Homo sapiens: one gene and its partner. The protein of the gene in region 1 interacts with the protein of each later gene in a pairwise test. Each region holds a gene or a part of one and is shown on either strand. Other genes may lie near its edges.

Region 1 (3,749 bases):
ATGTGCCACCATGTCTGGCTAATTTATTAATTTTTTGTCCAGATGGGGGTCTCACTATGTTGTTCAGGATGGTCTCCCATTCCTGGCCTCAAGCAATCCTCCTGCCTTGGCCTCTGAAAGTGCTGGGGTCACACCACACCTGGCCTATGTATCATTTTATAAAAATTTGTTTCCTCTTTGCTCCAACTCCTAATGCAAGACTCAGCTCCCTACAGAAAGTCCCTGTAAGTAGGAAACATGCCACACATGCCCCAGATAAGGAGGACTGTCTCTCAGGAAATCAGCACACTATACATATACCTTCTTTTTAAACCTCTGCAGAGAAAGGAAAGTTTCTCACATATCATGGTGAATGCGTTCTCTGGATATTTAAGGATGAATAATAGCTTTCAGAGACTTAGTGAAAGGTGTAATTTGCTCCTCAAAAGCTCCATTTCTCTTCTCTTACCTTCTCCCTCACTTCATCTGAGGCATAGTGACCAGCAGCAAGCAGTGCCTGTCCAGATTCATCTGCAGATTTGAAGCTGTCTTCATGGGCATCAATTTCACCCTACAGGAGAAAAAAACAAAGCCATGATTTGTGCCCAGCATCTTACAAAATAAAAACAAGGTGCTGAATTTTACATAAGCATTATAAGCCAGACTATGACATCTAAAATGAGAAACAAAATGAAAGATTAGGCCAGATTTCCTAATACATAATCAGTCTAGGTCATCAAATGTGAGAGTATCACTCACTGATGAAATCCTTTCCAAATGGCTTTTCAGGTCACCTGTCATTTGTCAAGGTTCCACACATTCACATGGGTCTGAGCTCTCTTTCATTCCAGGGCTCTGTCTTCTTTGTGCCAAATGGACTTGTTTACTATGATTTTATAGAACCTGGTAGGGCGAGTCCCTCCCTGGCCCCATTATGATCTTCAACATTGTCTCAGCTTTTTTTGAATTTTTTTCTTCCAAATCAGTTTTGGAATCAGCTTATCTCATTGCAAAAAGAAACACACACATATACCTGCTGAGCACTTGACTGGAACTGCATTAACGGTATATATCCTGGTGGGAATTTACACCTTCACAGAAGATCGTTCCATCTGTGTACTAGATAAATCATTCTATCTATTCAGTTTTTATTTAATGCCTTTTAACAAAGTTTTATAGTTTTCTCCAGAAGTGTCTTACACTCTTTTGTTAGACTTATTCCTAAGTACTTTATATTTTCTGCTCTAATAAGTAGTATTTTTAAAAATTATGTTTCTGTTGCTAGTGTAGAGAAACATGTTTGACTTTCAGTATATTGATTTTGTATCTAGCACATTAAAACCTCTCAGAAGGTTTTTTTTTTTTTTTTTTTCTTTGAGACAGAGTGAAACACTCTTGTTGTCCGGACGGGAGTGGAATGGTGTGATCTTGGCTCACTGCAACCTCTGCCTCCCGGGTTCAAGCGATTCTCCTGCCTCAGACTCCTGAATAGCTGGGACTACAGGCGCGTGCCACCATGACCAGCTAACTGTTGCATTTTTAGTAGAGATGGGGTTTCACCATGTTGGCATGGATGGTCTTGATCTCTTGACCTCATGATCCACCCGCCTCAGCCTTCCAAAGTGCTGGGATTACAGACATAAGCCACCGTGCCTGGCCCAACAAATACTTTTTACATCACAAAGGATCAATGTGCCAAGTAGTAGCACTTCTATCTCGCCAGAGCTTGTCTGTTTGCTTTTATGGACCACAGTGAACCTCTTGACACTGAACCCAGTTAAGCCTCTATCAGAAGCAGGTAGACCAGGTCTCCAAAGGCAAAACCAACCATAATCCTCATGATGAGAAACACCTGTGAATAACATGGTACCAACGCCGACTATAGGCCTCACCCAACACTGATAAACTGGTGCATTATAAGCTAAAATCTTCACTTCTGGAAGATTCTAGAGATACCATTACCTTGTGCTCTTGGTGTCTATCTAGCAGGGCTTCAGCCCCAGCCACATCACTGGCAAGCTCATCTGCATTGATGAGGGCTTTCATCTCAGTCACCCAGCTGGTGAGGTCACGGAAGTCAGCAAGGAAGCGTTGAAGCCTAGGGAAAACCAAAGGAAGACATTATGTTTCCAGCGGAGGTTCCAGGGTGGAAAATGGCCTCCCTAAAGCTCTGAATTCTATGTTCTCAAATGTCTAACAAACTATATAAATTCTAATTCTGGGAAATATGAAAATTTCCCAATCTAGACTGTGAAGGAAAGCAAGAGAAGGCTGAAATCAACCCTTTAAAACTTAGGTTCTCTCCATCACTATAATGCCCCAATCCTGTCCCACATTTTCAACTTCCTTGTTATTCCCAGGTTCAACCCTTGGCTAGCAAGGATTCTTTTCCTTTCTAATCCTGGTTTTAATAAGATATTTCATGTGATACTCAGATACTTAAAGGGACATTCCCATTCTATCAATCATAATGCAGTGATGCAGAATAGAAGAATTTATGAAGTTGTAAATACCATACGTATACTACACATGATACAGTTGCCAGTCTCCAAACAGAGAGAACATAGGTAAGAAGTGATTTGCATTTGTAGGTGATACCTGACACTTTCACAGAACACAGAACAGACCCTTAACTCTGCTATTCCTGCTTCCAAAAAAGAAGCCAAATGATACTGGTTAAGACCTGGAGCATTATTTGCACCTGTATGAATCATTGAGCCGTGCATGTCTCTCTGCCGCCAAGGTGCGGATCTGCTCCCAGTTTGTAATCAGTTCCTCTCGCTTCACTTGAATCTGTGTTGCACTCAGAGGGTGGGACTGTTGCAGGCGGTCAGCCTCAGCACACAGGGCTTTGACCTAGAAATGAACTCCGTCAGAACTATTCTCCTGACCCTTGGTAACTTATTTACAGAATCAGCTGCTTGTAAAACCCACCTTGTCTTCTAGAGCAGCAAGATCTCTCTCCAGACCCTCGTGCTTCCGAAGCAGAGCCTGAACACTTGCCAGGTCTCGGCCAAAATCATCAGAGGCCATTAACTGCTCCTTTTCCTTAATCCAACTGATAGTCTCATCCACATCCCTACAGAACAAAGGCACCAGTTAATCCACAGCAATGATGACTCCCTAGAACTAGGAACACCCCATGGGACCAAGGCCTAGTCAGCCTCGACAGCTCACCAGCACATGCCCTGTGCTTCACAACTCCCCTCCAGGTTGAGACCCATTCCCCAAAGCCCACTCTGGCTTGACACCTGTTAAAGCGCTGAACTTCTGCTGCCCCAAAGAGCTTCCCCTGCCTCTGCAGAGCCAGGCCCTTCAGCCGCTGCCAGGCTGCATTGACTTCATCCTGCTTAGTCTTGATCAGTTCCTCCTCAGGGTGCTGCTCCTAAACAAGGAAGAGAAGAGACTGGATTTGTACACAACTTCTGGCTCCTCCAACTAGTTACCCTGGGGTTGGTTCCTTGAAGCATCTCAGCAAATCACCACTCTGAAGAGAATCACAAGAAATAATGGTCAACATGATACAAAGTGAACTACAACTCCAAAGAGTTTCTATTTCTTATGTAAAAAGGGGAGAGCCATTCTCTATCTTTTGGAGTAGTGTGGTTAGTCTATAAGGTGGTTATGTGCAAAAGTGCCAAAAACCTTTATGTTAATAAATAGTTTGGCAACAACTGTGTGGTAACTTTATCAATGTACTCATCTACCCTAACTGCTTGAAAATTTGGTATTTCAGATGTTCATGAGGCTGTTAAGCATTCTTGCACATA
Region 2 (3,749 bases), on another chromosome or scaffold:
AAAAACCAGTCTGGGCCTCTCTTGTTCTCTTGCAACATGATCTCGTCCACCATGTTATGATGCTGCAAGAAGGCCCTTACCAGATGCAGCCCCTCAGCCTTAGACTTCCCAGCCTCCAGAACCAGGAGTCAAATAAACTTCTATTGTTTATAAACTACCCAGTCTAACTTACTTGCAACACAAAACTATTATACTAAGCCGGATACCAAAGGCTACTTATGATACGATTTCCATATACAAATGTCTATATAGGACAATCCATAGAGACAGAAAGCAGATTAGTGGCTGCCAGGGGCTGAGGGAGGGGTAATGGGGAGTAACTGCCCATGGGGACAGGGTTTCTACTTGGCGTGATGAAAATGTTCTGGAATTGGGTAGTGGTGATGTTTACACAAGGTTGTGAACCACTGAACTGCACACTTTAAAGGGGTGAATTTCATGGTGTGTGACTTATAGCTCTAATTTTTGCTTTGTTTTGTTTTTTGGAGACAGAGTCTCGCTCTATCCCCCAGGCTGGAGTGCAGTGATGCAATCTTGGCTCACTGCAACTTCTACCTCCCAGGTTCAAGCAATTCTCATGCCTCAGCCTCCCAAGTAGCTGGGATTACAGGTGTGCACCATCACATCCGGCTAATTTTTGGTAGAGATGGGGTTTTGCCATGTTGGCCAGGCTGGTCTCGAACTCCTGACCTCAGGTGATCCACCAGCCTCGGCCTCCCAAAGTGCTGGGATTACATGCAAGAGCCACCACACCTGGCCCTCTAATTTTTTAAGAGAAATTAGAACAAATCTTTTTCTGAAACCAAAGGAAAGTAGGAGAGGAGGGCTAGAAAGTGAAAATAGAAGAGAAGCTAAAGGAACTTGAGAAACCTCACTCCGAATGGCCTTCGATGTCCCCTCAGAACAAAGGGCCTTTGAAAATGCTCTTGACACTTCCCAAGGCACACCACCCAACCAGGGGGGTCGGGGGATCCACAGCCTGCCTGGTACTCACCAACACCTGTGGCACGGAGAATCCCTCGTTCTGTTGCCTTTGGCTCTGCTCTTTGCCCCAGCTGGGAGACACAACTGGGTTTGCATGGTGGAGTTCCTGCACATGAAGAAAGACACAGGCACTGAGAGAGAGAGGGCTTGCAGGGGAAAACAAACTCTTGTTTCTCAACTCAAACTCTCCTTCAGCTTCAATATGGGCTTCAGATTCTCTGGGCTGAGCAAGTGTGATGGGTAGCAAAGGGATCTTGCCCAATAGCTAATGAACTCAGGACCCAACCCACAAACACCCTCCCCTCTGCCCCAAGGGGCTGAGGCTGTCTCACCTCAGAAGCCTGGGGCCAAATTCAAGGAGACCCAAACAGGGCCTTACTACAGAGGGAAAGAAGTCAATGCAACAGATGAAGCTTTGTCATCCTGTGGACGCTAAGTGCCACAAAGCCTAAGCCACGTCTGTCTTCTTCACATGGCAGGCGCTTAAGAAGCATTTAGTGCCTGCGTACAGGAAGGAGCCAGGTGACGCCAGCCTTACCCCTGGAGGCCAGGGTCCTGCACTGGTCAAGCATCCTGTATTTGCACAGGCTCCTCCGTGCGCTGTCCAGCAATGCCCACTCCTGGATGAACTCCACGGCCACATCCTCAAAGGTGACGGATTCCTAAAACAGCACACACATTCTGGCTCGGCAAATACCACCCCCACCACTGAGCAGAACGACTGGTTATCACTGGAGAAGAGAAAATGTTCAGACACAGCAGGCATGGAAAATCCAGCCTAAAGCCTATTTTTGTAAATAATGTTTTCTTGGCACACAGCCACGTGCATTTATTTACAATGCATCAATGGCTGTTTTGAGGCCACAACGGCAGAACTGAATAGTTGTGACAGAGATCACATGGGCCACCAAGCTGAAATGTTTACTTTCTTTTAACATTTGGATAAATCCTAAAGTGTAAAGTTATGGCTCTCTGTGTAACTCCACTGACTTGTGATGGCAGAGCCTGTCCCTCCCTGCTTAGAGAGTTTTTCCTAAACTCCTTATTACAAATTGGCACAGCATCACAAATTTGGGATTGAAAGCTTAATTTCTGTGAAGTCCCTGGGATCCCCCAAGACTTACGTCCTTAATTATATACTTGTGAAAGTAGGACTTCCATTGCATCTGAGAGTCTTTTTCTTTTTTTCTTTTTTTTTTTTGAGACAGTCTTGCTCTGTCGTCCAGGCTGGAGTGCAGTGGCGCCATCTCGGCTCACTGCAACCTTCACCTCCTGGGTTCAAGCGATTTTCCTACCTCAGCCTCCCAAGTAGCTGGGATTACAGGCACGTGCCACACACCCAGCTAACTTTTTGTATTTTTAGTAGAGACAGAGTTTCACCATGTTGGCCAGGCTGGTCTTGAACTCCCAGCCTCAAGTGATCTGCCCGCCTCGGCCTCCCAAAGTGCTGGGATTACAGGCATGAGCCACCACGCCCGGCCTCATCTGAGAATCCTTTTAATTGCAGAATTCTTCAGAGCAGTGCTGTCCAACAGACATCACTCTCTGATGATGGGAATGTTCCATGCCTGTGCTTTCCAGAAAGGGGCTACCAGCACATGTGGCTGTTGAGCACTTGGGCAATGTGACTGGGGCGACTGAGAAACTGAGCGCTTAAACTTTTTAATTTTTTTTTTTTTTTTTTTTTTTTTAGAGACAAGGTTTTACTCTGTAGCTTAGGCTGGAGTGCAGGGTCACAATCCTAGCTCAATGCAGCCTCAATCTCCTGGGCTCAAGCTATCCTCCCACCTCAACCTCCCAAGTAGCTGCGATTCCAGGCACACACAACCATGCCCGGCTAAATGTACTGAATCTTAATTAATTTAAGCTGAATTTATATTTCTATGGCCACATGTGTTTTCAATAGGTCTCACCAGGGATGACAAGGATGGCCCTGGAGGAGCTCCGCTCAGAGCCCCAGGGTCTGCTGTGGGACTCTTCTTCCATGCCACCTCTAGAGGTCAGGCACAGAAGGAAGTCCCTAGGTCCCCTAGGGCAGGGATGAGGATGCTCCTCACTCACCCTTCCCTTTCTTCCTCAGTTGGGGACGGAAGTGGCGAGAGAGAAGACAGGGCCCAGAGGACATAGTTATCCTACATATCCACCCCTTCAGCCACAGGAGCCCCCAGTTTCCTCACCATGACACTGGAGCCAGGGTTTGAGGTCTCAGTCGGTGTTCTCCCTGCAATAAAGGAGACACTGAGGTAAAAGAAGGGGTGAGGACGGAAGCAGAGCATTTTGGGGGATCTCCAGCAGAGTGGTCACAATCAAAACCCTTACAGGACATTTATCTCCATAAGCAACATGTTGGCCCCCAAGGCACCTTTCAAACAACAGCCTCTAGTGACTGCTACTGACTCTTCCCATGTCATCAAAGGAACATTTTAACTTCTAGCTTCCCTCAAAATACTTCTAAGATCTTCTACTTTTCCTCCACTGCCCATATGAAGGTGTGATTTGATATTTATTTCTTAAACGATTTTGGCCTCTCTCTCTCCAACTGTGATGTAAACCTTTTTTTTTGAGTCTCACTCTGTTGCTCAGGCTGGAGGCCAAGGTGGGTGGATCACTTGAGGTCAGGAATTTGAAACCAGCCTGGCCAATATGGTGAAACCCCATCTCTACTAAAAATACAAAAATTAGCTGGGCATGGTGGCAAACGCCTGTAATCCCAGCTGCTCGGGAGGGAGGCTGAGGCAGTAGAGTTGCTTGAACCCAGGAGGCGG

Evidence for each region. Proteins that work in one complex are often made in the same cells at the same time.
Region 2: the proteins of SPTAN1 (region 1) and ZNF333 interact in a two-hybrid assay, tested with the Homo sapiens proteins (one study listed by BioGRID).

The regions. Positions count from the first base shown.
Region 1 is NC_000009.12:128,576,438-128,580,186, reverse strand, and holds part of SPTAN1 (spectrin alpha chain, non-erythrocytic 1), read right to left. Parts: intron 3,365-3,749; coding exon 3,231-3,364; intron 3,059-3,230; coding exon 2,914-3,058; intron 2,836-2,913; coding exon 2,681-2,835; intron 2,078-2,680; coding exon 1,942-2,077; intron 551-1,941; coding exon 449-550; intron 1-448. UniProt on the Homo sapiens protein: Fodrin, which seems to be involved in secretion, interacts with calmodulin in a calcium-dependent manner and is thus candidate for the calcium-dependent movement of the cytoskeleton at the membrane.
Region 2 is NC_000019.10:14,692,907-14,696,655, reverse strand, and holds part of ZNF333 (zinc finger protein 333), read right to left. Parts: intron 3,206-3,749; 5' UTR 3,165-3,205; coding exon 3,162-3,164; intron 1,647-3,161; coding exon 1,523-1,646; intron 1,091-1,522; coding exon 995-1,090; intron 1-994. UniProt on the Homo sapiens protein: May be involved in transcriptional regulation.